7 linked regions of the Homo sapiens genome follow. The protein of the gene in region 2 purifies or fractionates together with the protein of the main gene of each other region. This does not show direct contact. Each region holds a gene or a part of one and is shown on either strand. Other genes may lie near its edges.

Region 1 (4,400 bases), on a different chromosome or scaffold from region 2:
AGCTGCAGGACTGCAGGTGGAGGCTCCAGGCTGGAACTTTCTGTATTTTTTGTGCAGATGGGGTCTTGCCATGTGGGTCAGGTTGGATTTTTTTGTATTTTTTGTAGAGACGGGGTCTTGCCATGTTTTCCAGGCTGGTCTCAAACTCATGAACTCAAGGGATCTGCCCACCTTGGCCTCCCAAAGTGTTGGGATTACAGGCATGAAAGTGAATTCTTCTGCCATATTTTACAATACTAGGCATTTAAGACAACCAGAGGTAAATAAAAGTTTCATTGTGACTATCAACCACCTTTTTCTTTAGATACATTTGCATTTGAGTCCTAAGCCATGAGGAAACCGCAGGGAACCTCAGCCTTCCTGCTGAGCTCCACACCGTGGGGCCCTTCAGTACTGAGAGACCTGCCCACAATCACAGCAGAGAACCCACGTCAGAAGGCCCTCTTAGGCCCCCATTCCTAAGGGTGCCTGGATTCGGCGACCCAGAAACTCACCCTCTGCTGAACACTACACTTACAGAACGTGTCCTCCTGGAGACAGCCCTTGAGGGGAAACGGGCTGGGCTCAGCTGGGGCCCAGGAGTCCCCTTGTCCCTGGCCTGCCCCTCCATGAGGCCCACCCTTTCCTCCATACAGGTGACATCAGATTTCGGTGAGGAGAGTAAGATGACCCCGGTTAGGATAAGAAGAGTCAGGAGTGTTTGGGGGCAGGTACCGTGGCTCACACCTGTAATTCCAGAGCTTTGGGAGGCTGAGGCAGGAGGATCACTTGAGCCCAGGAGTTGGAGACCAGCTCGGGAAACATAGTGAGACCCTATTTCTACCAAAAAAAAAAAAAAATTAACTGGATGTGGTGGCGCATGTCTGGTCCCAGCTACTTGGGAAGAGGGAGGGTGAGGGGAGATTACTTCGGCCCAGGAGTCGGGGACCGCAGTAAGCTGAGATCACATCCCTGCACTCCAGCCTGGGTGACAGAGTGAGATTCTGTCTCAAAAAAAAAAAAAAAAAAAAGAATGAAAGAAAACAGAAAGAAAGAAAAACCAAAACAACAAGCAGGTTTAGATCGCAAAGCCAACGACGTGATGACAGCCAGGAGCGCGGTGGCTCTGGCTGTGTCCGTGCCCCGGGCCAGGGCACCTTCATGCCGTGTGCGTGGTGCCCGCAGGCAAGTCAGGGCCGGTAAGTGACACTGTGAAGGTCATGCAGCAAGGCGGGGGGTGGGGCCCGGAGCCTCCTGGACACTGGGCCATCACAGCCATTCCCTGAGCCCCCGCCCCAGCCACACCCGGGAGAAGACACAGCCTGCGTTCCTGAGCCTTCCTTCCAGTGGAGTGAGACCAATACAGGAGAGCTAAGAAACCCTACACGTTATAGAGAAAAACAAAAGAGGGATGGGAGTGGTTAGGGAGGTTAAAACAACTATTTTTGTTGCAAAGCCAGGTCCCAGTAAAACCACGCCAGGAGGGCTCGTGGCCTGGGAGGCATCTCCGGAGACCATAGCAAGAAGGGAGCGCGAGGAGCAAGCACTCTCGGGCTCAGCCTCCATCCCCAGCAGTTCTGAGAAACAGCAGGGACCTCTCCAAAGGGTGCACATGTCTGAAGTGACCTTTGGAGGAGCCAGGGACAGTCTCATCCTGGGGCTTCCTGACGAGGTCACCTTGTAGGAGGAACAAGGTCAAGGGGCTCCAGACACCCAGAACCCCGCCAAGGGCCCACAGCACAGACAGACAGGGTGTGGTGTGCACGGGAGCAGGACTCTGCCTGGCTGGAGTGCAGATGCCGGGACAGGAGCCTGCTGTGAGGGAGGCCTCCAGTGGGGAAGCTAACAGGGCCTCCACAGGACCCTGTCTTGGAACCACACGGCCACCCCACGTGAGGGGTTCTCACTCTGGGCAGTAATGTCTCTAAGAAAAGAGGGGTGAAGGAGCCCCAGCCTAAGGGAGGCTAACCGTGGAAGAGACAACAGCCCATCAACCTGCTCACATGCAGAATGGGAGACCCAGAAGCTAGATCAACGTGAGGACACCACTCAACCCTGTTCTGCAAGAGACCAGCAGGAAACCCCTCGTCATCTCCATGTGGGCTCAGGAAGAAGATGGAAACGACCAGGCCTCAGGGACACCCAGAATGCCACCACTCCACACACAGGCCCACTGGAGGAGGAGGCTGCACTCGGCCCCACCCTGACCCTCGGACGTGCCTGCAACCCAGTCAGCATCTCCCAGATACAGCACAGGCTCCCATTCACATGCAGAATCCCAGGAATAAACGCAAAGCTCAAGGGATGGGGTGAGCAGCCTGTGTCCCACCAGCACCAAGTTCCACAGCACACAAAGACAGGATCACACACTAACACAAGTTAAAATTGAAACTTGACTTCTTTTTTTCTTTTTGAGATGGAGTCTTGCTCTGTCACCCAGGCTGGAGGACACTGGCGCGATCTCTGCCTCCCAGGTTCAAGCGATTCTCCTGCCTCAGCCTCCCAAGCAGCTGGGATTACAGGCGCCCGCCACCACACCCAGCTAATTTTTGTATTTTTAGTAGAGACCGGGTTTCACCATATTGGCCAGGCTGGTCTTAAACTCCTGACCTCGTGATCCACCTGCCTCGGCCTCCCAAAGTGCTGGGATTACAGGCGTAAAACTTGACTCCTTTAATACGACTTTCCACGACAGAGACCTTCCTGTGGTTTCTAAAGTGGCCACCAACCCAACACTCACTCCTTGTGTAGCCCAGGGAAACGCTGATCATTGATCAACCCTAACCCAACACCATCTTTCCATTTCCCCAAAACACAGAGATTACCTGAAATATAAAGGTAACCCTTCGCCCCTTCAGGTAAATGTGCACACTGTCATTGAGGTGGCCACCGAGTGCCCAGCACCCTCCTGGCCCTGGGGAAGCAGAAATGGGAATGAAGAGGACCCAACAGGAAGGGAGGCAGAGGGTAAGGGACCCAGAGAAAGGGCACCAGGCACAGCAGCCCTGCAGGAGGACACATCTCAGAGCTGCTCAAATCCAACGCTCCTGGAAAGTAAGGTCCGTATTAGTGAGCTCCAGTCCTTGTCCTACACGCAGCACGACGTCTACACATCTTGGAAGTGACAGAGTGCCGCTCAAGATAGCATGAGACTCTCAAGGGAAGAATTCCGTGTCCCTCCCAGGACGCCAGGTCTGTTCAATGGCTCCTCCCACCCGCCTGCAGACTCTGCAGGACGGTGTATGTCCTGTGATCAGACACAGAACAGAGCTGTGATCAATCCTGGCAATTCAGCCACTTCACTAGGGTGAGGGCGTGAAGACAGCTGGCTCCCTGCCATGGGGAGTGGAAAAGACCCAGCTGCCTCCTTGGAGATGGTCACTCTCATGTCCACTCTCATGGTGGGCAGGGAGGCCGAGACCAAGAGGAAAACGCGGCGTCGTCGTCCAAAGGGCCAAGGAAAGGCCACGCCTGGATGGGCAGCCCAAGGCCTGCGAGAGGCTCCTGGACCGGGCACTGGCCCTTCTGGCTCTGACCAGCAAGACCAGAAAGACTTCATCTGGCTACTCGCGCCTCCCAGGTGTAGGCAAAGCTGGGAAAGCCCCGATCCAGGATGATGGAGAAAGGCATCTTCCAGAAACCTGGGGTATCTGAAGGTCAGAGGTCACCTCACACATAAAGTCCTCAGGTCACTGAGAAGGCTCATTTGAGGCACCCCATTCCAAGACACAAGCATACAATAAAAACTCTCAGAACATCACAGTGGCCCCCAGCTCGGGAACTGGTTAGCAAGTGTGGTCATCCGAAGCTGCTTCAGCGTCTCCCACAGACAGGCGGCAACGTTCACAGGCACCTCGCCAGGGTAAGGGGTCCCCAAGTGTTCTCCCAAACAATTTCCAGACCGCATGAGCTGCCACATCTTCGCACAGGGCTTCTCGGAGTCTGTGGATCTAAACGTTTTCCTCTGGATGTTCCCCATAATTGTCCTTGCTACCCTGAATGAATCCAGAGAAGGAGAGCTCAGCCTCGTGCTCCCAGGGCCAGTCAAGCCCTGAATCGAACCGCACGCCCTATCCCTATGGCTGACAAGCAGTCACAGAGAAACAAAATTCACACATGGCCGCCGTCACTGGCCCGAGGAAGTGCACCCATCCTTGAAAATGAACGCCCTGGCTGGATGTGGTGGTGCATGCCTGTAATCTCAGCAATCTGGGAGGCTGAGGCGGAAGGATCACTTGAGGCCAGGAGTTGAAGACCAGCCTGGGCAACACAGGGGGACCCTCTATTAAAAATAAATAAATAAATAAAAATGAATAAAAAATAAAAAGTAAAACTCTCTAAAACACAAAATTAGAGTTAAAAAAATGCCAGCACAGCAAGTCAGTGCAGGTGGACTCAGGAGGTCAGTGTGAGGCTCTGCA
Region 2 (3,113 bases):
TAAAAATGCGCATCTCTGGGACCACCCCAGACCTGCTGGCTTAGAATCTGCATTTTAATAATTATTTTAAAAAACAAACAAACAGCTTTTTACTAAACCCCAGGGGGATTCCTGTGCACAACAGAGTTTGAGAAACACCTAGTTAAGTGGCTGTGTGCAGTGAGTGGGGAGGGATGAGGGCTTCCAATGAAGGTTGAGTTGCTGTGGAGCTCTGGTTACATTGCACAAAAAACCCACTCAAGTGAGCTGGAGACCCAGGATGGGAAGAATTGGAGTACAGTCACCCCTAGGCAGCATCCCTCCCTCTCCCTGGACTGTATTCTAGGATCCTCTCTGCCTCTTACCTCCTGCCATTCCAAGGCCTCCTTCTGAACCTGGCCTCAACCCAGTCCCAAGTTTGCACCGCCCGAGGCAGCATAGGGGTCCCTCCATTTTGATTTCCTAAAGAGAATAAGACTGGCTAGTTCAGAACCCTAAGTCCAGGGCAGCCCAATCAGCAGTGGAAGAGGCTCCACAGCAGTGGGCCTGACCACCTTCCCCTCTCCTAGGTGCAGGCGGAGCTGAGGCGGAAGTGGCGGCGCTGGCACCTGCAGGGCGTCCTGGGCTGGAACCCCAAATACCGGCACCCGTCGGGAGGCAGCAACGGCGCCACGTGCAGCACGCAGGTTTCCATGCTGACCCGCGTCAGCCCAGGTGCCCGCCGCTCCTCCAGCTTCCAAGCCGAAGTCTCCCTGGTCTGACCACCAGGATCCCAGGGGCCCAAGGCGGCCCCTCCCGCCCCTTCCCACTCACCCCGGCAGACGCCGGGGACAGAGGCCTGCCCGGGCGCGGCCAGCCCCGGCCCTGGGCTCGGAGGCTGCCCCCGGCCCCCTGGTCTCTGGTCCGGACACTCCTAGAGAACGCAGCCCTAGAGCCTGCCTGGAGCGTTTCTAGCAAGTGAGAGAGATGGGAGCTCCTCTCCTGGAGGATTGCAGGTGGAACTCAGTCATTAGACTCCTCCTCCAAAGGCCCCCTACGCCAATCAAGGGCAAAAAGTCTACATACTTTCATCCTGACTCTGCCCCCTGCTGGCTCTTCTGCCCAATTGGAGGAAAGCAACCGGTGGATCCTCAAACAACACTGGTGTGACCTGAGGGCAGAAAGGTTCTGCCCGGGAAGGTCACCAGCACCAACACCACGGTAGTGCCTGAAATTTCACCATTGCTGTCAAGTTCCTTTGGGTTAAGCATTACCACTCAGGCATTTGACTGAAGATGCAGCTCACTACCCTATTCTCTCTTTACGCTTAGTTATCAGCTTTTTAAAGTGGGTTATTCTGGAGTTTTTGTTTGGAGAGCACACCTATCTTAGTGGTTCCCCACCGAAGTGGACTGGCCCCTGGGTCAGTCTGGTGGGAGGACGGTGCAACCCAAGGACTGAGGGACTCTGAAGCCTCTGGGAAATGAGAAGGCAGCCACCAGCGAATGCTAGGTCTCGGACTAAGCCTACCTGCTCTCCAAGTCTCAGTGGCTTCATCTGTCAAGTGGGATCTGTCACACCAGCCATACTTATCTCTCTGTGCTGTGGAAGCAACAGGAATCAAGAGCTGCCCTCCTTGTCCACCCACCTATGTGCCAACTGTTGTAACTAGGCTCAGAGATGTGCACCCATGGGCTCTGACAGAAAGCAGATACCTCACCCTGCTACACATACAGGATTTGAACTCAGATCTGTCTGATAGGAATGTGAAAGCACGGACTCTTACTGCTAACTTTTGTGTATCGTAACCAGCCAGATCCTCTTGGTTATTTGTTTACCACTTGTATTATTAATGCCATTATCCCTGAATCCCCCTTGCCACCCCACCCTCCCTGGAGTGTGGCTGAGGAGGCCTCCATCTCATGTATCATCTGGATAGGAGCCTGCTGGTCACAGCCTCCTCTGTCTGCCCTTCACCCCAGTGGCCACTCAGCTTCCTACCCACACCTCTGCCAGAAGATCCCCTCAGGACTGCAACAGGCTTGTGCAACAATAAATGTTGGCTTGGATTGGCTTGGTTCCCCTGGTGGTTGATATTCTCATATGGCCTAAAATGGGACCAGCTTCCAACTTGGAGCCATCTTCCTCCACCCAAAGGATGGGTGATCTAATACATTACTGAAACCAGATGCCTCAACTCTTTTGGCTTTTGACAGAAATCCATATTTTCATATGAGGCATTCACAGTTCTGAGGGCCTTCAGCTCCCATCTTTTTGAGTGGTATCCTCTCTCCTCTGAGTGTGATGAAGACCAGGTCCCCATTGTGTCCCCCCACTCCTTAAATCCAGCCAAGAAAAGACCATTCTAATCTCAGATCAATACAAAACAGCTGGCAGAGCTGCCCAGGGTCCCAGAAATGGTTGAGTGTGAGTGTTTCACAGGCCGCAGACATTGCTGCAAACAAGGGTCTAGGATGACCATGTTGCAATTACCCAGGGCTCAGCTAAGAGGAGGTAGGTAGTGGACAAAACAAATGTCACCAACACAAGTTGAGTGAGCAGAGACAATATGGCACTAATAAAAAGGTTTAGACACAGAGGCAGTATGGCAAATATCATCAGTCAGCAAGAGATGTCTCCAAAGCCGTTCCCATGCTGACCTCCTTGGGTCCCACCTCCTGCAAACTTGCTAGAGGAGCAGGAGAGGGATGTCAAGCTGGTAAAATGTGGTCAGAATGGGCTGGCAAAGGCTCATATCTGCCTGCCCAGCTACTTCAATGCCTTGTCTGACCCAGTACCATTCCAGGACCCATCATCAATGACAGTTCCAACCCAGTATCCTCAGAGGCCAGAGTCAGGGGTGTTCAGGCCAGAATAGAAGTGACTGTGAGCCATGGGCAGAGGCACCCCCAGGGAAATGCCCTTTGATCAGTTGCCCAGCATATCCAGGAGTGGCACGGTCTCTCCATCTAGATTCACACTCCATGCCCTGCCCTGTGCATGGTCAGCCATAGGATCGAGAAGGAGGCGCTGTTCCTAACCTTGACCTCAGGTACCCCCAGGCCTGCTAGAGAGAACATTGTCAGTAGCCCCCACCCCTGCCCAGACCAACAGTGGTGACCACCAGTGAGGTACTGGTGGTGGAGAGCTGAGCT
Region 3 (4,400 bases), on a different chromosome or scaffold from region 2:
AAAATTACAAATGAGGAAATTGAGACATAGAGATTTGAAGTTACTTATGTAATATATACTATACTTGGGACGTAAACCTATATTTTATCCCTAAACACTCGAGAGTGTCATCCATGAGGCCATTTGTGTAACTTGCCTATCTGTCTGTGTATGTATGAGTTAGCTTGATTGTTATGTCAGGGAAAAGACTTACATTAACTCTGATGAGGTGAATAACATTTTTAAATATGAAAGCCATTGTAAGTGGCTTTTAATCTTTAGAATTTTATTAGCTCAAACCACAGAAAACATCTTAGGTGGTTTTTAAAAATTTTTTTAAATTTTTATTTGTTTTGAGACTAAGTCTCACTGTGTTTCCCAGGCTGGAGTGCTGTGGGATGATCACAGCTCACTGCAGCCTCAATCTCCTGAGCTCAAGCCATTCTCCCACCTCCTAAAGTGCTGGGATTGCAGGTGTGAGCCACCGTGTCTGGCTTTAAAATAATCTTTCTGTTCTATAATGCAGTGTTCTAAATCAGGAGAGGCTATACATTGATTTCAGTGGTGCTGCTGTGACTCAGCCACGTCGGGACCCCTCTGGAAACTGATTTTGGACTAGCATTGTCTTTTTTACCCCCACCACTAGTTTTCACCCTGCTAGGATGAATCAACATTTTAGAAACAGTCAGTCACATTTGGTGATTTGGTTGGTATACCAACCCAAACATCATTGTTTTATGCTTAAAAGGCATGAAAATATGCTTCTGTATTTATGTATGTTCTTATCTATTATTCCCATAAGATTGCACACGCTGGGGGGACCAAGTCTTGACCAGATTTACCCAGTGTTTCATTCTTACTCTATCTGTAAGCCCAACTTCATATGTGGATTGTGTTGACCAAATTAAAAAGTATACTTTAGATATTTACAGGAGAGATATAGCCCAGAATGAATAAACCATCTTTTTTTTTTAGTAAGTAGCCTGAAATGTAGATGATGATGCATTCTTAAGAAATCCAGGTGCCAGGCTGGGCGTGGTGGCTCACGCCTGTAATCATAGCACTTTGAGAGGCTGAGGCAGGCAAAACACTTGAGGCCAGGAGTTTGAGACCAGCCTGGGCAATGTAGTGAGACCTCATCTCTAAAAATAAATAAGTTAAAAAGAAAGAGAGAGAGAGAGAGAGAGAAAGAAAAAGAGAAAAAGAAAGAAATCCAGGTGTCAGTTCAGAATTGTTCACAAAAAAGAGGAACCCCCAAATCCCCAAGAACTTAGGCTAAAAATCGTTTATGTGACTGATACAGTTTGGATGTTTGACCCCTCCAAATCTCAGTTTGGATGTTTGACCCCTCCAAATCTCATGTTGAAATGTGACCCCCAGTGTTGGAGGTGAGGCCTAGTGGGAGGTGTTTGGGTCATGGGGGCAGATCCCTCATAAATGGCTTGGTGCCATCCCCTTGGTGATGAGTGAGTTCTCACTGTTAGTTCATGGGAGAGCTGGTTATTTAAAAGAGCCTGGTACCCACGCCTCTCTCTCTTACTCCCTCTCTTACCATGTGACATACCTGTTCCCCTTTCACCTTCCACCATGATCATAAGCCACCTGAGGCCCTCACCAGAAGCAGATGCCAGCACTGTGCTGGCTCATACCTGTAGTCTCAGCTACTCAGGAGTCTGAGGCTGGAGAATCACTTGAGTCTGGGAAGCCAAGGTTGCAGTGAGCCACGATTGCACCACTGCACTCCAGCCTGGGCGACAGAATGAGACCCTGTCTCAAAAAAAAAAGAAATCTAGAAATAAAATGACTACAATTTAAAAGTTACTGCACGATTGGCCAGGCTCATTGACTCACTCCTGTAATCCCAGCACTTCGGGAGTCTGAGACGGGTAGATCACTCGAGGCCAGGGGTTTGAGACCAGCTTGACCAACACAGTGAAACCGCATCTCTACTAAAAAAAAAAACAAAAATTAAAAATAAAAGTTAATACATGATAATCATGGGAACACTGAATATTGATTTAAGCAAAAATCTTAACTATTAGAAGGATGGAGAGAATAAAGAGAGGGATTCAAGACCAGCCTGGGCAACATGGCAAAACCCTGTCTCTACAAAAAATACAAAAATTAGCTGGGTGTGGTGGCTCACGTCTGTGGTCCCAGCTACCTGGGAGGCTGAGGTGAGAGGATTAATTGACCTCCACCCAGAGGTGGAGGTTGCAGTGAGCTGAGATTGTGCCACTGCACTCCAGCCAGGGCAATAGAGTGAGACCCTGTCTCAAAACAATAACCACAAAAAAAGAGGGAATGTGGTATAAGAGAGCTGAATTCTCATTCCCCATAAGAGAATGTAAATAATGTCTAAAAATGATTAATAAGATATCAGTATATTATTATATGGAGATGTATAAATTCCAAAACAAACAACTAGAAGAATTTAATTGCCTCTCTGAAGGAAGATTGGATAAAATAGAGAGGAGTGGGGCAAAAACTGCTATATTTTGTCATTTATACTATGTGATTTTTTAAACTATGTGCATGCTTTGCTTTGATCGATTAAAAATTTACTATTAGAATATTTAATGCTCGGTGGCTTACGCCTGTAATCCTAGCACTCTGGGAGGCCAAGGTGGGCGGATCACCTGAGGTTGGGAGTTTGAGGCTAGCCTGACCAACATGGAGAAACCGTGTCTCTACTAAAAACTCAAAATCAGCCGGGCGTAGTGGCGCATGCCTGTAATCCCAGCTACTCAGGAGGCTGAGGCAGGAGAATCACTTGAACCCGGGAGGCGGAGGTTGCAGTGAGCTGAGATTACGCCATTGCACTCCAGCCTGGGCAACAAGAGTGAAACTCTGTCTCAAAAAAAAAAAAAAAAAGAATATTTAATGCATAGCTATGAATTTGTTAATTGTTGAAGCTTAGTGATATGTTCAGATTCAAGCACAGATTTCTGAACATATTAGATACAGCTGAAGATGCAATTAATGCACTAAAAGATAGGGACCACCAGTATACAAAAAGACACTGTTAGCACTCTGGAGATTCCAAGGGTCTTGGATGCTCTTGTATCAGGAACCAGGGACTAAGACACTATTATAACAAAAGACATTCCTATCATTCAGGAAATTACAAGAATTTTACCAGGAGCTCTGTGTCAGGAGCCTAGGATGAGGACCAGATATATACTTTGCATCATAATATCACAGCCCATCATTTTAAAAAAACCCTAATAAATGATCATCTGTAAGACATTAATTGTAGGATATAATTAATATCCTATATAATATATAGCTTCCTGGAGGTATTTACCTTTTTATAGAGTTTTCCTGGAAAGGACAGTGGCCAACCCAGAGGTAGTGTGATGATGTCAGGTTAGATGATAGTATATAATAATGAAGTTTGTTAATAATGTATTTTTTTTGTAGTTAATGGCCTCTGTTCAAACTATACTCATAGGACCCATTCACACTCCTAAAAATTTTCACCAACCCCAGAGTCTTGCTTATGTGGTTATAACAATCAATATTATTGTGTTAGAAATTAAAACTGAGAAATCATTGAGATATTTGGTTTTGTTTTTTGGTTTTTTTTTTGAGACAGGGTCTCACTGTGTACCCAGGCTGGAGTGCAGTGGCACAATCTCAGCTTACTGTAGCCCCAACAGCCCAGGCTCAAGCAATTCTCCCACTTCAGCTTCCCAAGTAGCTGGGATTACAGGCGTGCACCACCACGCTGGCTAATTTTTTTTTTTTTAATTTTTTTGTAGAGACTGGGTTTCTACATGTTTCACCATGTTGCTCAGGCTGGTCTCGAACTCCTGGGCTCAAGCAATCCGCCCACCTCGGCCTCCCAAAGTGGGGTTACAGGTGTGAGCCTTTTTGTTTGTTTGTTTTTTTAAAGAGATGTGGTCTATGTTGTTGGCCATGGTGGTCTTGAACTCTTGGCCTCAAGCAGTCTTCCTACCTCGCCCTCCCAAAGTGCTAGGATTACAGGCATGAGCCACTGAGCCCGGCCAAGATATTTGTTAATTCATTAAAAATCATTAAAAATACATTAGCTGGGTGTGGTTGCTCATACCTAAAATTCCAATGTTGTCTCGCCTCTACAAAAAAAAAAAGGTAAAATACATCCATTACATGTTAACATACATAAGCTATATTTTTTAAACCATATTTTCCAAAACGTCATAAGATGAATGGCATTGATGTATAGTTTTGCAAACCTCTCTTTGACTTGATAGAAGATAGCTGGATCCTTTTATCTGCTTCTGAATTCAGTCTGTTGCAATATCACACATTTATGCATAGCCTTTGGAAAATTTTGCTACACACTGTGAGAGAATAAGAATGAGAAAGGCAAATAGCATTTTATTATTTCATAATGATTCTTATGAAAAGGTTTTTAATCCTACAAAACCTCCTAG
Region 4 (4,400 bases), on a different chromosome or scaffold from region 2:
CACATTCTCAGAGGGCACACAGCTGGTGCCCAATACTTACTCCTCACTGAGGCTCACTAAACACTCAGCAGTGCCATTTTGTTTCAGGATGATCAATAAACTGAATTCTTAGTAGTTTGTTATTCTTCTACCAATGCCTTCACAAAGGTCCAGATCAATGCAAAACGCCAGGCCTCTGAGTTGAAATCGAAATCTCACTTTGCTTGGGGAATCACAGCCAATGTGACTTCACTTTCTTGCCATAGGCTGCTGTGGAACAAAGGTAAATTCCTCATGTGGCCAAAACACACCTGAGTGTTGCTGAGGACTTAAGGATGGAGGGTCAAAACTCACCCCAGGCTCCTTCTAGGTTTCCCCAGAACTCAAGAGCAAAGACGTCTCCCAAACAATTGCTTAAATCACAACTGAATTAAAGAAACCACTTAAAACTTGCTGGTGAATTCAAACATAAATATAAAATTGTATTGTTTCATATGATCATTAAACAAAAAGTCCATACAGAGTAGCCTAAAGCTTTGAGCTCAGGCTTTTCCCACAGGAATTCATACCCACATTGATACAAATTATCATGAAGAGTTTCCATTTGAATTTTTGTCAGGACAAGTACCTTGGCAAGTTGCAAATATTCTGCGAACTATGAGCGCCGCGTATGAATAATAAGTACTCTTTGATACAAATTATCATGAAGAGTTGCCATTTGAATTTTTGTCAGGACAAGTACCTTGGCAAGCTGCAAATATTCTGCGAACTATGAGCGCCGCGTATGAATAATAAGTACTCTTTGCTAGAACAGATAAGGAACACCGCGGGAGTGAATATAAAGTGAATTTCAGGAAGGAAAAAACTCGCGATCTAAAGAAAAAGCCACCCTTCTGAAGCATAAAATTTTTTTCAATAAAGATGTTTTCAGCCGGGCGCGGTGGCTCACACCTGTAATCCCAGCACTTTGGGAGGCCGAGGCGGGCAGATCATGAGGTCAGGAGATCGAGACCACCCTGGCTAACGCGGTGAAACCCCGTCTCTACTAGAAATACAAAAAATTAGCCGGGCGTGGTGGCGGGCGCCTGTAGTCCCAGCTACTCGGGAGGCTGAGGCAGGAGAATGGCGTGAACCCGGGAGGCGGAGCTTGCAGCGAGCCGAGATCGCGCCACTGCACTCCAGCCTGGGTGACAGAGTGAGACTCTGTCTCAAAAAAAATAAAATAAAATAAATAGAAATAGAGATGTTTTCTACTTGAAGCAAAAACACACAGAAGAAATTTGTGAAAATTTTATTTACGAATTGACTTATGGAAAGTTCATTTAAAATTTTATTAACTTATATAATATTTTTAAATAATAATATAATGAACATGCACCCAGCACCCAACCCAAGACCTAAAATGAATACTATTTACTGCCCATGTAAGAACCAATCATGGTATTATAGCAGTGTGCCGTGAAGAATTATGATTAAAGAATTTGGAGCACCTGAGGTCCATTGAACAAAAACCTTGTGAAGTGATTCCCCTAGGAAAAATGGACTCATTCCAGGATTCCTTTAAATAATCTGCCTGAGTAGACTAAAAACTGTGAATCAATTTCTTGTCCAAAACCCCCTCCACCCAACCTCTCAGGAATGATTATCAAAAATTTTCTAAAAGGTACATTCACAAGAACCAGGAACCTGGAAAGTGAATCAGTGATACTCAACTCCGTAACTTCATGGAAATCTTCCTTGTGCAATGGAAGAGCAATATCTTATAGGAATTGAAGTCCAGTAAAGATTCTTTTAAAATATTTTTTTCTTCTACTAGGCCAATGGTAGGACACTAAACTGAATGTGTTCCCTTCTAACAGAAGAACTCTTCCCTCTCTAATATGGAATAGGCACAAATCTTTCCACTGTCAACATTTTTTTTTTATCAGTCCTTTTTCCATTCCAACGTGCAAGCCAAGATTGAAATCAGCACTAACCTGTAAGGGCTCACTGCTTTCCTGCTGGTCTTCAGAGAGTCTCCTGCTGGGAGAAGCAATGATGGGAGTGATAACTAAAGGACTCATGTGATTTCTCCATTCTTTTTTTTTCAAACCTCCACCTCCCAGACTCAAGCGATCCTCTCACCTTAGCCACAGATATACTCCCACCATACATATATATACGTATATATATAATTATATATACATATGGTGGGAATACATATATATATATAATTGTAGGACGACTTAGGAGGACTTGATGAAGCCAAAATGGGTTAAGGAAAGAAGAGAATTTTCCCCACAACTGTGGGAAAAACTAGTAAGAATCAACAAGGGACATACAAATTCTTTGTTGTGTATTGTTCACCAAATATTCCAAAAATGAATATAACACAGTTGGGACTTTTTTTTTTTTTTTAAGCTCCTGTTACAAAGGTCATGGAATGTTCTCGCATCACTCGCCTTCCCGATACTGAATCCCAGATTAGGCTCAGTTCTGTAGAGGGGGGCTAGTACGCAGCAGTGCCAGAATGGGTGTGTGGGTATTGCTTTCATTTTTTTATCTCATTTTACATATTTTATATTTTATGTTTTGCAGGAGGATGGGGATACGGTGAAAAATTAAATTCATGACATTTGCAGCACTAGAATGCTCCAGCTTCATGATTCAGTCTTGGGTGTATAAAGTCCCGTATCAAGAAATTTCAAGATTTTCCACAACACATCACATCCATACACACCCAGAATAACAGGGGACCACATGTCTCTGAAGAGAGAGATTCATACTAAAAGTCTAAATAAAAGTCTAAATAATACTAAAAGTCTAAATAAGAGACGTGACCCACATATTCAAATCCAGCCTCTAAAATAGCCTTATTAACTCAAATCTTCTCTCAAGTCAATACTAATTATACTTACCAGTGAGGTCAGCGTAACAGCAGCAGAGGCCTTTCTCAGAAATATTTAAACTTTAAGAGTCCATAAGAGGCCGAGCACAGTGGCTCAGGCCTGTAATCCCAGGACTTTGGAAAGCCGAGGCAGGCGGATCACTTGAGGCCAGGATTTCGAGACCAACCTGGGCAACATGGTGAAACCCCATCTATACTAAAATTACAAAAAGTAGCCGAACATGGTGGCACACGCCTGTAATCCCAGCTACTCGGGAGGCTGAGGCATGAGAACTGCTTGAACCCACGAGGTGAAAGTTGCAGTGAGCCAAGGTCGCACCACTGCACTCTAGCCTGGGCGTCAGAACGAGACTCTGTCTCAAAACAGAAAAAAAAAAAAAAGTCGATAAGAATGTGAAAAGCAACAGCATACTGCTTGCTTCCATAGACTGATATATAACAGTTTCCATTACTAAGATGGACAAGAAAAATTAATAGGTGATTCATGCTGTGATTACCTTAACTAATTGAAGCCTGATGGAAATGAACTCCTACTTGGCTGGGATTCTGTGTGTGTGTGTGTGTGTGTGTGTGTGTGTGTGTGTGTGTGTGTATGTGTGTGTTGAGACAGAGTCTCGCTCAGTCACCCAGGCTGGAGTGCAGTGGCACGATCTCGGCTCACCGAAACCTCCACCTCCCAGATTCAAGCAATTCTCCTGCCTCAGCTTCCCAAGCAGCTGGGATTACAGGCACCTGCCACCAAACCTGGCTAATTTTTGTATTTTTATTTTTTATTTTACTTTAAGTTCTGGGATACATGGGCAGAACACACAGGTTTGTTACATAGGTATACATGTGCCATGGTGGTTTGCTGCACCTATTAACCCAATTTTTATATTTTTAGTAGAGACGGGGTTTCACCATGTTGGCCAGGCTGGTCTTGAACTTCTGGCCTCAAGTGATCTGCCCGATTTGGCTGCGTTTTGTCAATATCATCCACAACATTTCCATAACCACAAACACCACTTCTAAAACAAGAGCTAGAAAGTCAAGTAAAAGGGAAATATAAGAGGAATGCGGACAAATTTGTTACTACTAGTAAAATAAAAATGTCCAGCACATGTGATTTTGATGATGAAATAGTAGCATCGCCTTCATGTATTAGAGAGAGCATGTAAATTACTTGCTTTGCGGCACAGACAGGTCTGAAATCGTCTGCTTAGAAGTGGTGGTATTTTTTAATAGAGTACAGCAAAATAAAAAACTGCTCTTAAAATCCATCAATGGAGTTCCCCAAATGTAAACATAATTATAGAATCCCTCTAAAACCGGAGTTACACATTACTTTTTTGATTTTCCAGTGTACAGAGTAGAAAGTAAGTTTTCAATGAAGGAATAAATACATTTGAAGACAGATAAAACATCTTTTCTCAAACTGTTGAAATCAGTGGCATTCACTCAACAATAAAGACATATAAGCATGTGTTATGTGACACATACTATATTAGGTACTAAAATGAAAAGTTATTAAAATGGAAGACAATGACAAGAACAA
Region 5 (4,145 bases), on a different chromosome or scaffold from region 2:
CCAAGTGTAAAGAGCCTGCCTATGCCAGAGTCACCGAGGGCCTTCTTAGCGGGGAGCTGCCTGAATATGAGTCTCCGCAGGAGGGCCCCAGACCTGCACTGTGATTCTGACTCTGACCATACTGGGAGAAACACTGCCCTGGGAGGGAGCATTCGCTTTCAGGGCAGATGCAGCTGTCCATTGGAGAGAGTGCACTGTCTGGGGGCTAAATACCCCTTGCTGTGGAAGACTGGGACGGCATCACCTCGCCCAGACAGCCAGCCTGCTCTGTGGCTGTGTCAGGCACGCTCCCAGGGTCTGCACTCAAGTGTCTGACGTTCTCATCTGAGTCTAGCTAGGGGAGTCTCTTTTGGTATTTTCAGTGCATGCTTTTCCTCATGGGGAAGCAAGAGGGATTTCCACCCTCCCTCCAGCTCCCTACTAGCACACAGCATGCACACAGGCATGCACGTGCGCATGCGCGCGCACACACACACATACTGACTCTTGTGTGGCAGTTCTTTTCAGGCACGTGCCCTTGCCCTGGCCTTCCCATCCCTGGCACCCACCGAGGCCTCAGGTCTGCAGTACTCAAGTGTTTGCGCCTCCCCTGCCTTTCTCTTGAACCCTGTCCTTGCCTGGAAGACTTCTTTGGCACGCTGGTGCCTGGTCCCCACTGAGGGCTGGTGAAAGGCACTTTGGAGAATAGTTTCACAGTTTGGCAGTTTCTTTTAAAGTTAAGTGTGTAGTTACTGTATGACCTAGCAGTCTCACTTCTAAGTATTTTACCCAAGATAAATGAAAGCATATGTTCACACAACCTGTACACTGATGTTTATAGAAGCTGTTTCATAATTGCCAAAGCTGGAAACACTTTGAGTATCCAGCAGCTGAATGGATGAACAGGCTCGTGCATGCCTCTAAGGGACTGGCACTCGGCAATAAGCAAGCATGGATTCTTGGTACAATCAGCAGCATAGATGAGTTTCACATGCATTCTGTCAGGTGAAAGAAGCTAGATGCCAAAGGCTATGCATGGTAGGATCCCATGCCATTCTATGACATTCTGGAAAAGGTAGAACCACAGGGACAGATAATGAGCAGTGGTTGCCTTAGGGGTGAGGGTGTGAGGGGACGTTCCAGGTGATGGAAGTGTCCTGTCTTGGTTGTGATGGTGGTGGTACAAATCCACAGGTAGGTCAGAATTCATAGAAAGATAAACCTCAAAAGTTTACTCTGTTATACTTCCATGAACCTAACTTTAAACAGTAAATAAGTGGAAACTATTGGTCATCATGGAGATCTCATCCCTGCTGCAGGGATTACAAGATCCTCCTCTGGTAGCTTAGGGGCCCAGGGACAGAATGACAAAGCAGTCACCACTTGTTTTGTAGGGGGGTCCTGCAGACCACCGGCCTCCCCGACTGCCCCCATGGTCACTTTCTATTCTTTCTGTTGGAGCAGGGCACTTTGTGTTGGTGTGCGGGGTGTTTCTTTTTGCCCCTGAACTAGTAATTTTTTTCTTTTTTCTTTTTTTGAGATAAGTCTTGCTCTGTTGCCTAGGCTGGAGTGCAGTGAGTGGTAGGATCTCAGCTTACTGCAATCTCTGCCTCCTGGATTGAAGTGATTCTCCTGCCTCAGCCTCCCGAGTAGCTGTGATTACAGGCGTCCGCCACCACGCCTGGCTAATTTTTGTATTTTTAGTAGAGATGGGGTTTTACCGTGTTGGCCAGGCTGGTCTTGAACTCCCACCCTTCAGTGATCCGCCCACCTCGGCTTCCCAAAGTGCTGGGATTACAGGACTGAGCTTCTGTGCCTGGACTGAACTAGTAACTTTTACACCCAGGAATTCCAAAGCAGTTTAAAAATACTTTGCTTAGCCCCCAGGCAGAGGCTTAACCTCCAGGTGGAGGCTCCATGAAGGAGCCTGTAGGGCTTGTGGCTTTTGAGACGGGGGATGCAAGAAGGAGGGCAAGGGAGGGGATTGCTTGGCTTGAGCAGGAGCAGGCAGGCAGGCTTTGGTGTCTGTCTGCCAGGATTGCTGAGGGATTTGACTAGAGGTGTGAGCTTCTTGCTTCAAAGCCAGGTCCTGTGATGGGTTTCTAGAGGTTTGTTAAAAAAGGTATATATGAGACCATAATAAGAAGCAAGGCCCGGTGGGGAAAACATGAACTCTGAGACTTAGGAGGAGCGTCGTAGAGGTCTGAGCTGGTGGGCCAGAAGCATCAAGACAATGGGTACCCTGGCCCTGGCACTTGTTCTTCTGACATGGGGTAGATGCTCCAGAAGTGCTTGGTCTTGCAGTTTATAAAATGGTGGTCTCATTTCCTAGGCTTTCGGACAGTCCTTTCTCCAGCCCGACATCCACCTTTTTAAACAAAATCTCTTCTACTTGGAGACTCTCAACACCAAGCAGAAGCTGTACCACAAGGTAAGTGCCCCAGCTCTTGGAAATATTCTTCCATCAGGGGCATTGTGGCCTGTGTCCCACCCTCAGGTTACTCACTGGAGAGTGTGACAGAAAGTGGATGGGACCCGGGACAGGCCCCTGGGGGCTGGCTGCTGCTCACCTGGTCTCTCTGCCTGCAGAAGATCTTCCGGACTGCCATGCTGTTCCAGTTTGTGAACGTGCTGCTCCAGGTCCTGGTCCACAAGTCCCATGATCTTCTGCAGGAGGAGATTGGCATCGCCATCTACAACATGGCCTCAGTCGACTTTGATGGCTTCTTTGCCGCCTTCCTCCCAGAGTTCCTGACCAGCTGTGATGGTGTGGATGCCAACCAGAAAAGTGTGCTGGGGCGGAATTTCAAGATGGATCGGGTGAGGAGAGAAAGAGGCCGGGCTAAGAGGAGGGCAGAGTGGGCACGCAAGCCTGGCACCTGTGCAGCAAGGAGGGGGCACATTGAGGCCTCTGGGCGTGGTCTGTGCCCACCCTGCAGCTTGGCGGCAGCTCACGAGATGCCTGCTGACCTGGTGCTGTAGCCTGATTGAGGGGCACAGCCTTTTCCCCAGTCTTGGTGTCTGTAGCACGTATGTTCTTAGTCTCAGCCATGGAGGTCCCGAGTTCCTGGCTCTGCAGCCCCTCCATTTGTCTTGGCATCTTTGTTCATACCCAGGACCCTGCCGTTCTCCCTCCTGGGTGATGAGCCCCGGTGGGGCCAGCATTGGAGTGTGCCCAGGCTTGCATTCAGGCTGAGATGGTTGGTGCTTGGGAGCTGCACTTCTGGGTCCCCAGGGTTAGAGGTGGGACCCAGGTTCCCCGGCTGTCTTGGGCTCTTTCCAGACCAGCCCCAGCTCAGCTTGGGCTGAGTTGCTGCCAGGTCCTGGGAGGAGCCCTCCTAGTACTCACCCTCTTGTCCCACTGCTGCCACCTGTGCAGGGACTGTCAGGTGGGCTGTCCCCACCCGTGCAGCACCTCGGTGGGAGCTGGGTGCTGCTGGCTCTTGGTGTCCATGAGGCCATCTTGTTGGAGCCTGACAGTGCCTGGGACCTCCTTCCCCATGGGGCTCACCTGTTCTCTTCTTCCTGTGTCAGGTGACCAGGCCTCTCTCTTGCCTGATAGGAACTTCTGGGAACTTTTCCTTGTACCGTTTTATACTTGATGAAATTAGGAAAAGAAATCGCTTTCTCCCTGGTCCTCTTGGGGTTCTTGACCTGAGTCCTCTGTGAAGCAGCTTGTCCACGGCTCCACCGTAGTGCTCAGATGCACACACTGCTCTCACTGGTGCAAACCTGGCCGCCTGCTTTCCTCATTTGCCACGTGTGGCAGGGAAGCTTTTGCTTAGACTCATCCTGTTCTCCTTTGTCTTGGGGTCTTCCTTTTCTTGGGACTTGTTCTCTCCTAAGCCTCTTCCAGTTCACTTCAGCCCCTGGATATGTTTTTTCCTTTTTCTAGAGGCCAGATCCTAATACTTAATGATCAGCTTCTAACGACATCAATATCAGTCAACTTTTTGATTTAAAGCTGTGGTTTCAAAATCTAGTTATAGGCCAGGCGCGGTGTCTCACACCTGTAATCTCAGCACTTTGGGAGGCCAAGGCGGGCGGATCACTTGAGGTTAGGGGGTTTGAGACCAGCCTGGCCAACATGGCGAAACCCTGTCTCTACTAAAAATAAAAAAAATTAGTCAGGTGTGGTGGCACACGCCTGTAATCCCAGCTGCTTG
Region 6 (4,400 bases), about 81 Mb from region 2:
CTTGGTTGCTGGATGAGAAATTAGTCAGAGGGTCAGAGAGGACCTCAACTTCATATGCTTTAAATAGAGCATATGCAATTTTAAACCATCCTCTTAACCAATTTTTCTTTTCTTTTCAGTTTTTCCCCAGTTATACTTCCACATGATACACCAGAGAAGAAAGATCCTTTCTCATACTGAAGAACACAAGAAATTTGAATAGTTCCTGCTTTCTGCACCTCCCACCAAAACAAACTTTTCAATGATCAAAAAATGCTGCAGATTTTTTGAGTTCCCAATACGTTTCATAGAAAATAAGTAAGAACTATTTTTAAAATATTCAAACAAAACTAAAACAAAAATCCAGTGTCACATGGGCCTGAGATTTTATTTTAGAAAAAGGTTGTTACATAAAACACCCTGGCCAGTTCATTTCAGCATGCTCTTTCAACCAGAAGTTCTTAATATTTATGATGGCACTAGAAAGGGATTTGGCATTTTATGTCCTTCTGTGTCCTTCATGTATCTGATCAATGAAGACCTGTAACACTAAGTACTTGAGAGTTACAGTCTGAATAATGAAGTCGTACCAGCTGAATAGCCCAGCTTGCAGTATAGTTATGTTTCAGTCTGCAGTGTGTTTAGCATTCCCTTGTCAAAGTGCTTGACTGCATGCTGGAAACTTTGTATTTTTGAAGCGGCAAACTCTGTTCTCTGGAATGCTCTGAAGTTATGGCTGGGACCTATCCCCTCACATCTAATGAATGAATTATAAAATGTATATGTCTATGAAGCTTCGGGGTAGTGCCTGTAATCAGAAAACAACTTAGAACCCTTTTGTTTGTTTCCAATTGAGTCATTACTGCCTGCCACTAAGAAACGTGCTTGAATCTAATAAGTATGTGTGTACCGTAAAGAATATATCTTATCTGGAGCTCAGCCTCAATCATGTCTTAACAAAATGACAGGTCTCAGAAAGGGGGAGCTCAATAGCTCAAAAGTGACAAGTCCTTTTCACAGCACCATTCTCAGAACACCTCTGAGTAACGTGTTTGCCAGTAGCTATTCTCACTGATGCACTGATGGCCCTGAAGAAGCGGATCCAGTCACATAGGAAAGGAGGCTGTGTTAGTGAAAGCACATGGAAGGTGTTGCTTTAGAAAGGTAGTCAGGAAAAACATTCAGGAATAGATTTATACACCATTATTGTTTTATTTTTAAATTTTCATTCACTCTTCTGTTTGGATACTTTTGCTAATTAACTTCCTATGTTAATTTCCACCAAGCTATAAGTCCATAGTCAGTAAAACATTCCCCTTGGGCTGTCATGAGCTAAAAGCAGTGTCATCTCCGCATGTTGGAGCAGCCAAGAAATAGTTTGGTACTACCGACATTGTCTAATCCATGTCACATCCTCATACAATTTAATTGCTCAACCATGCATTTAAAACTCCTCAAGAAAGGATTGGTACTGCAACTGTAGGTAAACTGAAAAAAAATAAGAAAGAAAGAGTTGGATGAAAATGTGAAAGCCCAAGTTTAGATGTGCATTAAGTATTAAATAGCACAGTATCTTCTTCATGGAGCCTTTTTTCCTCCCCCATCCCCTGCAGCTGCCTTTTTTTGGGGGCAGGGTGGGGGTTGATGTTGAACTTTAAGAGTTTAAAAGTTTAGCTTATTGAGTAGTTGTCATTTAAAATATAATTGCGAATATCAGAAAACTCATACTGGAAAACTAAATTTTTTTTTTCTCTTGAGACGGAGTCTCGCTCTGTTGCCCAGGCTGGAGTGCAGTGGCGCGATCTCAGCTCACTGCAAGCTCCACCTCCCGGGTTCACGCCATCCTCCTGCCTCAGCCTCCTGAGTAGCTGGGACTACAGGTGCCTGCCACCACACCCAGCTAATTTTTTTTGTATTTTTAGTAGAGACGGGGTTTCACCGTGTTAGCCAGGATGGTCTTGATCTCCTGACCTCGTGATCCACCCGCCTCAGCCTCCCAAAGTGCTGGGATTGCAGGCATGAGCCACTGCACCCAACCCCTGGAAAACTAAATTTTTAAGTGCTTATTTTTATAGAAGTTTGAAAATTTAATGCAGGCAGGTGTGTAATAAATTATTTTTGAATTGAACATTAAAATTCTGCTTCTTAAAGTCAGCACTCAACTTGGACATGTTGAAATTAGAATCTATTCTTGTATTTGATAGACAAAATATGTGGGAAAGATTTTTTGCATGACTTTTCTCTCATTTTATTCTTCCATAATGTATTTCTACTATAAAATAGAATCAACTTGGGTTATATTTGTCATTTACTTTGTTCTGTTAGATTTTTTCAGTTGTTTTTGGAAAAATTCTAGAAATCAGGATGAAAAATGCAGCTTTTCCAGGGTTGCTGGACTGGGGGTTTTATTTGGGCCTCCTTATTATAATTTGTCACTACTTATAAAAAACATTCTGTTGCAAACAGTGGTGTTGCATTGAATTGAACTTTGGCAATGAGAACACAGCACACAGCTCCCTTTTCAAAAAGGGTCTCAACCCCAGTGTGTATTTTTGTACATCAACATTTAGAATACTTATGGCAGATAAGTAAGGCATGTCACTGTGTCCTTCAGTAACCTCTCTCAGTAACTGGTTTCTTTATCCCTAACATGAATTCATTTCTCCTTTGAAGTCATTTATTATTTTATAAATTGAGAACAACCACACCACCAAATGTCACACCTTCTTATAAAGTGTGAACAAGGAAGGTCATGTTTTTGTGGGTATTTTGTCAGACTTAGAGGTTTCATTTCAGGGCATAGTCAAAGGCATCATCCTCCCAACTACCCACTTGATTATGTATTTCAGATCCCTCCGTGGGGGCCTTCTTCTGACAGAGAATTCTTTGAGGTCCGCAGTAGTGCTTTTGTCAGCACAGACTGCTAATCTACATCTTGCTGCGTTCTGTTTGCTGAGGTTGGGCTTATTCATTTAACACATACCAACCATTATCCAGAGGCACCATGGAGAGTTAGTCATGGAATAAAGCACTGTCCTTGCAGATGAAAAAAGTCTCCAGAGCAGACTTCTGACAGGAAAGGTTTAGATGCTGGAGAGTTGAAGAGGTGTAAGAAGAGATCGTGCCCTCATTTTTCACTTATTTTTTTGGTTATTCATTTATAATAAAAGGTTGGCATTGATATGGTACAACCTGCAAATTACTTGCAGTTCTGAGTTTCAGATAAAACATTATAAAACATTAAATTCAATACATACTGCTCCTTTGAAATTTGGGTAAAAAATTGTACAACCGTATATATAGTCATTTTTGTATTTTTTCTATGTTGTGAAAACCAAAATTGTAATTTTATAAGTCTTTGATTCACTAAAATTATATAATTTAAATGTATTTTTTGTATATTTAGAAATAAGGAGTCCAGAGACTACGCTTAACTTTCTATGCATGCATTTGAAAGCTGTTTTTACCTGATAATGTAGTAATAAGTTGTATTCATAAAATACTGATCTGTGTTGCATTTCAAAATAAACTGGTGTGTGCTCTGCCTGGATTTGAAATACCTACCAGTGAGTGCAGTGATTTTTCATAGTCAGTAGGCCTGAATGTGGTGTTGCAGGAATATGGGAGAATTTCAGTTCAATTATGGACTCCAGCTCTTTGACAATTTTAAAATCTAATTCTGCTATTCATAATGGTTCTGCACTTACAGGAAAGACAGATTATATTAAGAGGTTTCCAAAAAGTCCTTCCCTGCCAGTCAGTCTTCAGGCTAAGCCAGTCTGCAAGCTGGCTGCAGAGGGACAAGGGGTTCCTCATGCAAGTGACCAGGGAATCTAAGATATTAATCAGCATGGGGTTGAGGAACCTTGTCTTATAACAAGCTGGGGTTTTGTTAGTGTAACTTTTCTTTTTTTGTTTTGAGACAGAGTTTCGCTGTTGTTGCCCAGGCTGGAGTGCAATGGCACGATCTCAGCTCACTGCAACCTTCACCTCCCGGATTCAAGCGATGTTTCTGCCTCAGCCTCCCAAGTAGCTGGGATTACAGGCACCCGCCACCACACCTGGCTAATTTTTTGTATTTTTAGTAGAGATGGGGTTTCACCATGTTGGCCAGGCTGGTCTCGAACTCCTAACCTCAGGTGATCCACCCGCCTTGGCCTCCCACCACGCCTGGGATTACAGGTGTGAGCCACCACGCCCAGCCTGTTAGTGTAACTTTTCTAACAGAAGTTCAGCGGGAGATCCTGTTGCCCAGCACTGTTCATCTTACATTAAAGCAAGATGTGGTGAAGTTCAAGTACCTCATTCTGAAAATGCCTCCAAACACAGGAATCCCAGGAGTGGCCCCCCCTTACTCAGGCTCGCAGTAAGAAGTGGTGGGAAGGACACTGCCTTGGGGTGTCCTCCGCTGGGTCACAGCT
Region 7 (4,400 bases), about 27 Mb from region 2:
TTAGTTTAAGAACAATGAAAAGAAAATGGTTGGGTGGGTTCATATTTGCAGTGATCCCTCTGGCTGATTAAGGACCACAGAGAAACATCGCCAATTTAGAGAAGTCCACCGTGAGTATATTGTTCCCCACTTTTTCGGTGAGTCAGCCTTCCTCAGAAACCACACTTCAAAAATAGCTTTTTCGGCTAGAAAATTGGAACTCAGTGCAAAGCTGCCTGTACTCCTCAGGAAATATTTTGCTGCCTCTTTGGTGGTTCTTTTTGGCCTTGCAGCCTGACAGGAGTCACCAAATGTGGCCTTGAGTTGATCCGAGGATTTCTGTTATGGCAAACTTTTATTGCCAACTTTGCAATTGGTGGCCTTGGACAAATTTATTAACTTGTATATTCTTTAGCTTGCTTACGTGTAAAATGAGGTGGGTTAGCAAGATCCTTCCTAGCTCTAAAATTTTGTGAGATTTTTTTTTCCCCTTTCAGTAACTTGTGGTAAAACTATAGACATAGCTACTGAATCACGTTGGGAAGTTTAGGACCTGTATCCACACCCACTAATAGCCACCTTGTTTCAGAGAGAAATGAGAGTGCAGAGGGATTTTCCAGGATGATCCTTGGTTATAGTAGGTTACTTAGAGTGTGGGGGAAATCCTTAAAGCCGGTTAACATGACAGAATGGGTTCTACTGTGAGTTGCTGCCACAACTGGCACCCTTGTTTTCTTGTTTCTCTCCTGGATCCCTTTGGATATGTTTCTTCTCTGGGCCTCAGTTTAGTTATCTGTATAATTGGACTAGACTGATTCATCTTTGAAGACTGCTACAAAATTTCTGTGATGGGATTCTAAACCTTTTTATAACCATAAATGACTGCTCTAGAATGTGTAACTATTATAGGGAAAGATTTATTAATTATTTATTGGAATTGGGTAATACATGTTCATATTTTAAATATATATAATTAAAATATATACAAACATATGTATTAATATATTTTTAATTTCACAATAGAAAAACATAACGGTTTTTGAGTTGCAAAACTAGGTCCTGCTGTTTCTCCCTTCTTTCTCACCATCCCTCGTTCTTTTTTTTTTTTTTGAGACGGAGTCTGGCTCTGTCACCCACGCTGGAGTGGCACAATCTCAGCTCACTTCAACCTCCACCTCCCAGGTTCAAGTGATTCTCGTGTCTCAGCCTCCTGAACAGCTGGGATTACAGGCATGCGCCACCACGCCCAGCTAATTTTTATGTTTTTAGTAGAGATGGGGTTTCGCCATGTTGGCCAGGCTGGTCTCAAACTCCTAGCTTCAGCTGATCCACCCACCTCAGCCTCCCAAAGTTCTGGGATTACAGTTATGATCCACCGCACCCAGCCCTCTTTCTTACTCTAGGACTATCAGTAAGTGAAACTCCACCCAGCAGACCACAGAGGCAGCTGTCTACATGAAAGATGGGTGGCATGTTTATGGAAAGTTTTGTCCTAAAAGTCTTTGGGGTTTGTCGTGATTGCTGTGATAAACAGCCCAACTGTTGACTAAAAAGCATCTCAGGCAAGAACTGGTTCCCAGATTTCTGAGAATTTCTGTTAATCTGTAGAGGGTGTGTGTGTGTGTGTCTGTCTGTCTGTCTGTCTGTCTTTTGTTCCAAATACAGGTAAGTGCCAGGGCATTGGAGTGGTATACATTTTATCAGATACAGAAGAAAATAATTTCTGCTCAGAGTAACTTCGTTAGTTTTTTTCCAGCTTGGAAACTTGCTTGCTTTCTAATTATAGACTGTTGTTGGGCAGGTTATGAACTAAAACCAGTTCTATAGAACTTCAGGCTCTGTTCTTTTCTCTTGGACATGAGCAACCAGAACAGGTGAAACAAATTTGGAATTGCTTGAGTTAGGCCTGGATTTTTCATTGTTCCTTGTCCTGGACTTTAGGCACTCAACCTAAATATGTATTTTACTTGTCTAGAGGAAAATAAAAACAGCTTGACATGAATTTTGTTATATGCTTCACTTCATGAATTATTATTTTAATAAGTATTCCAGAATGAACTGAGTAGGAGCCCTTTGATGCTTTGCTGCCAGCCAACCCACTCCTACTTGCAGGGTATGCAAAGGAATTTCCTTGAATTTCAATCCTCCATTTGAGTTCTTTGTGTTGATTTGATCTTTGTTTTGCTTTGCTTTTTTTTTTTTTTTTTTTTTTTTGAGACGGAATCTCGCTCTGTCACCCAGGCTGGAGTGCAGTGGCACAATCTCGGCTCACTGCAGCCTCCGCCTCCCGGGTTCAAGCAATTCTCCTGCCTCAGCCTCCCAAGTAGTTGGGATTACAGGCACATGCCACCAAGCCAGGCTTAGTTTTGTACTTTTAGTAGAGACGGGGTTTCACCATGTTGACCAGGATGGTCTTGATCTCCTGACCTTGTGATCCACCTGCCTCAGCCTCCCAAAGTGCTGGGATTACAGGTGTGAGCCACTGTACCTGGCGATCTTTGTTTTTCTTTACGGCTCAGAAGAAACATTTGGGTAGGTTATAGGTCAAAGTCAAGGCTTTGTAAAGGGTTTTTTACATTCAGGAGCCTTTCCCCAATTTCATTTGTTCATTTTTAAATACCAATTTTTTTTATTCATCAAGGAATACATGGCCATTGAAAAAAATATGAAAATAAAAATAAGCAAATGGAAATAAACTCCCCTTATCCTACTATACTGTAGTCTTTGGTATAATTTTTCAGTTTCTCTAAGTATCTTTTTATTTTTTAATTGAGACAGGATCTCACTCTGTTACCCAGGCTAGAGTATAGTGGCACCATCACAGCTCCCTGCAGCCTTGACCTCTGAGCTCAGATGATCCTCCTACCTCAGCTTTCCAAGTAGTGGGGACTATAGGTGTGTGCTGCCACACCTGGCTAATTTTTGTGGGGTGTTTTTTTTTTTTTTTGGAGAGATGGGGTTTCGCCATGTTGCCTAGGATGGCCTCAAACTCCTGGGCTCAAGCGATGCATCCGCCACCTCGGCTTCCCAGAGTGCTGGGATTACAGACATGAGCTACCACACTGGCTTAGAATCTTTTGTGATGCTGGGAATTAGATAATATTAATCTATAAGAGTTTCAAGGCCTCTTCATTCACTCTCCACTCTCTACAACCTGCTGAAGGGGATTGTGGTTTTGATTCATCAGATTCTTTCCTTCCTCAGGCGTATAAGGGAATTTTTTCTTTCCCAGACCAATTCCGGGGTTGTCTCAGAAGACAGGGCATAATCCAGATAAAATAAAACAGAAAGAAAGTGCAGAGAGGCCAAGTAGACCCAGGTAACACAGAACCAAGAGGGAGGGGAAGAGGGCAGAGAGAATAGCACATGTGCTGGGTATTGGGGAAGGTTGGGGCACTGGGGTGCTATAGACTGGCACAAGAGGATCTGGAGGATGAGCAGAAAACCAGGATTTGGATTGGAGAAGGAACAGCTTCGCTGTGGTTCATGAACTGAAATTCCATTAATGTTGTTGGCGAGATGGGACAAGTAGAGATGGACTTTTGTGGTTGGTCTGTGCCAAGCGGCGGTTGTGGGTTGGAGAGCAGCTGCTTTTATGTTTTTGTATTTCCTTTTTTATATATTCATTTTATTTCTGATTATGAAATAATATACTAATTATAGAAATTTCTATTTCTTTTTTTTTTGGAAACAGAGTCTCACTCTGTCACCCAGGCTGGAGTGCAGTGGCGCAATCTCGGCTCACTGCACCCTCTGCCTCCCGGGTTCAAGTGATTCTCCTGCCTCAGCCTACCAAGTAACTGGGACTACAGGTGCCTGCCACCATACCTGGCTTTTTTTTTTTTTTTTTTTTTGAGACATAGTTTTGCTCTTGTTGCCCAGGCTGGAGTGCAATGGCACCATCTCGGCTCACTACAACCTCCGCCTCCCAGGTTCAAGCAATTCTCCTGCCTCAGCCTCCGAGTAGCTGAGATTACAGGCTCCCGCCACCGAGCCCAACTAATTTTTTGTATTTTTAGTAGAGACAGGGTTTTACCATGTAGGCCAGGCTGGTCTTGAACTCCTGACCTCAGGTGATCTGCCCGCCTCAGCCTCCCAAAGTGCTGGGATTACAGACATGAGCCACCATGCCCAGCCCAGGCCCAGCTAATTTTTGTATTTTTAGTAGAGGTGGGGTTTCACCACGTTGGCCAGGCTGGTCTCAAACTCCTGACTTCAAAAGATCCACCCACCTTGGCCCCCACAAAGTGCTGGGATTACAGGCTTGAGCCACTGTACTCAGCCTAGAAACTTCTACTTCTGAGCTATCTAACTTATATGATAAATCTACCTAACAGACAATGCATTATGTATTACAATTGCTTTTACCCACTCAATATATAATGTCTTCCCATATTATTAAATGCACTTCAATGTTTTAA

The links.
Region 1: the proteins of VIPR1 (region 2) and PTDSS2 purify together in Homo sapiens (co-immunoprecipitation; 2 studies listed by BioGRID and IntAct, with this or other methods). This does not show direct contact.
Region 3: the proteins of VIPR1 (region 2) and SLC25A17 purify together in Homo sapiens (affinity purification with mass spectrometry; 2 studies listed by BioGRID and IntAct, with this or other methods). This does not show direct contact.
Region 4: the proteins of VIPR1 (region 2) and SLC7A2 purify together in Homo sapiens (affinity purification with mass spectrometry; 2 studies listed by BioGRID and IntAct, with this or other methods). This does not show direct contact.
Region 5: the proteins of VIPR1 (region 2) and XPO6 purify together in Homo sapiens (affinity purification with mass spectrometry; 2 studies listed by BioGRID and IntAct, with this or other methods). This does not show direct contact.
Region 6: the proteins of VIPR1 (region 2) and HACD2 purify together in Homo sapiens (co-immunoprecipitation; 3 studies listed by BioGRID and IntAct, with this or other methods). This does not show direct contact.
Region 7: the proteins of VIPR1 (region 2) and ARL6IP5 purify together in Homo sapiens (affinity purification with mass spectrometry; 2 studies listed by BioGRID and IntAct, with this or other methods). This does not show direct contact.

Annotation. Positions count from the first base shown.
Region 1 is NC_000011.10:452,781-457,180, reverse strand, and holds part of PTDSS2 (phosphatidylserine synthase 2), read right to left. Parts: intron 1-4,400. UniProt on the Homo sapiens protein: Catalyzes a base-exchange reaction in which the polar head group of phosphatidylethanolamine (PE) or phosphatidylcholine (PC) is replaced by L-serine. Catalyzes the conversion of phosphatatidylethanolamine and does not act on phosphatidylcholine.
Region 2 is NC_000003.12:42,535,542-42,538,654, forward strand, and holds the end of VIPR1 (vasoactive intestinal polypeptide receptor 1 isoform 1 precursor), read left to right. Parts: intron 1-548; coding exon 549-740; 3' UTR 741-2,027; downstream 2,028-3,113. UniProt on the Homo sapiens protein: G protein-coupled receptor activated by the neuropeptides vasoactive intestinal peptide (VIP) and pituitary adenylate cyclase-activating polypeptide (ADCYAP1/PACAP).
Region 3 is NC_000022.11:40,808,801-40,813,200, reverse strand, and holds part of SLC25A17 (peroxisomal membrane protein PMP34), read left to right. Parts: intron 1-4,400.
Region 4 is NC_000008.11:17,499,858-17,504,257, reverse strand, and holds part of SLC7A2 (cationic amino acid transporter 2), read right to left. Parts: intron 2,945-4,400; exon of another isoform or gene 2,877-2,944; intron 2,002-2,876; 5' UTR 1,956-2,001; intron 1-1,955. UniProt on the Homo sapiens protein: Functions as a permease involved in the transport of the cationic amino acids (L-arginine, L-lysine, L-ornithine and L-homoarginine); the affinity for its substrates differs between isoforms created by alternative splicing.
Region 5 is NC_000016.10:28,100,112-28,104,256, reverse strand, and holds part of XPO6 (exportin-6), read left to right. Parts: intron 1-2,311; coding exon 2,312-2,410; intron 2,411-2,568; coding exon 2,569-2,799; intron 2,800-4,145. UniProt on the Homo sapiens protein: Mediates the nuclear export of actin and profilin-actin complexes in somatic cells.
Region 6 is NC_000003.12:123,490,690-123,495,089, reverse strand, and holds the end of HACD2 (very-long-chain (3R)-3-hydroxyacyl-CoA dehydratase 2), read left to right. Parts: exon of another isoform or gene 1-119; coding exon 120-202; 3' UTR 203-3,536; downstream 3,537-4,400. UniProt on the Homo sapiens protein: Catalyzes the third of the very long-chain fatty acids (VLCFA) elongation four-step cycle (condensation, reduction, dehydration, and reduction).
Region 7 is NC_000003.12:69,094,429-69,098,828, forward strand, and holds part of ARL6IP5 (PRA1 family protein 3), read left to right. Parts: intron 1-4,400. UniProt on the Homo sapiens protein: Regulates intracellular concentrations of taurine and glutamate. Negatively modulates SLC1A1/EAAC1 glutamate transport activity by decreasing its affinity for glutamate in a PKC activity-dependent manner.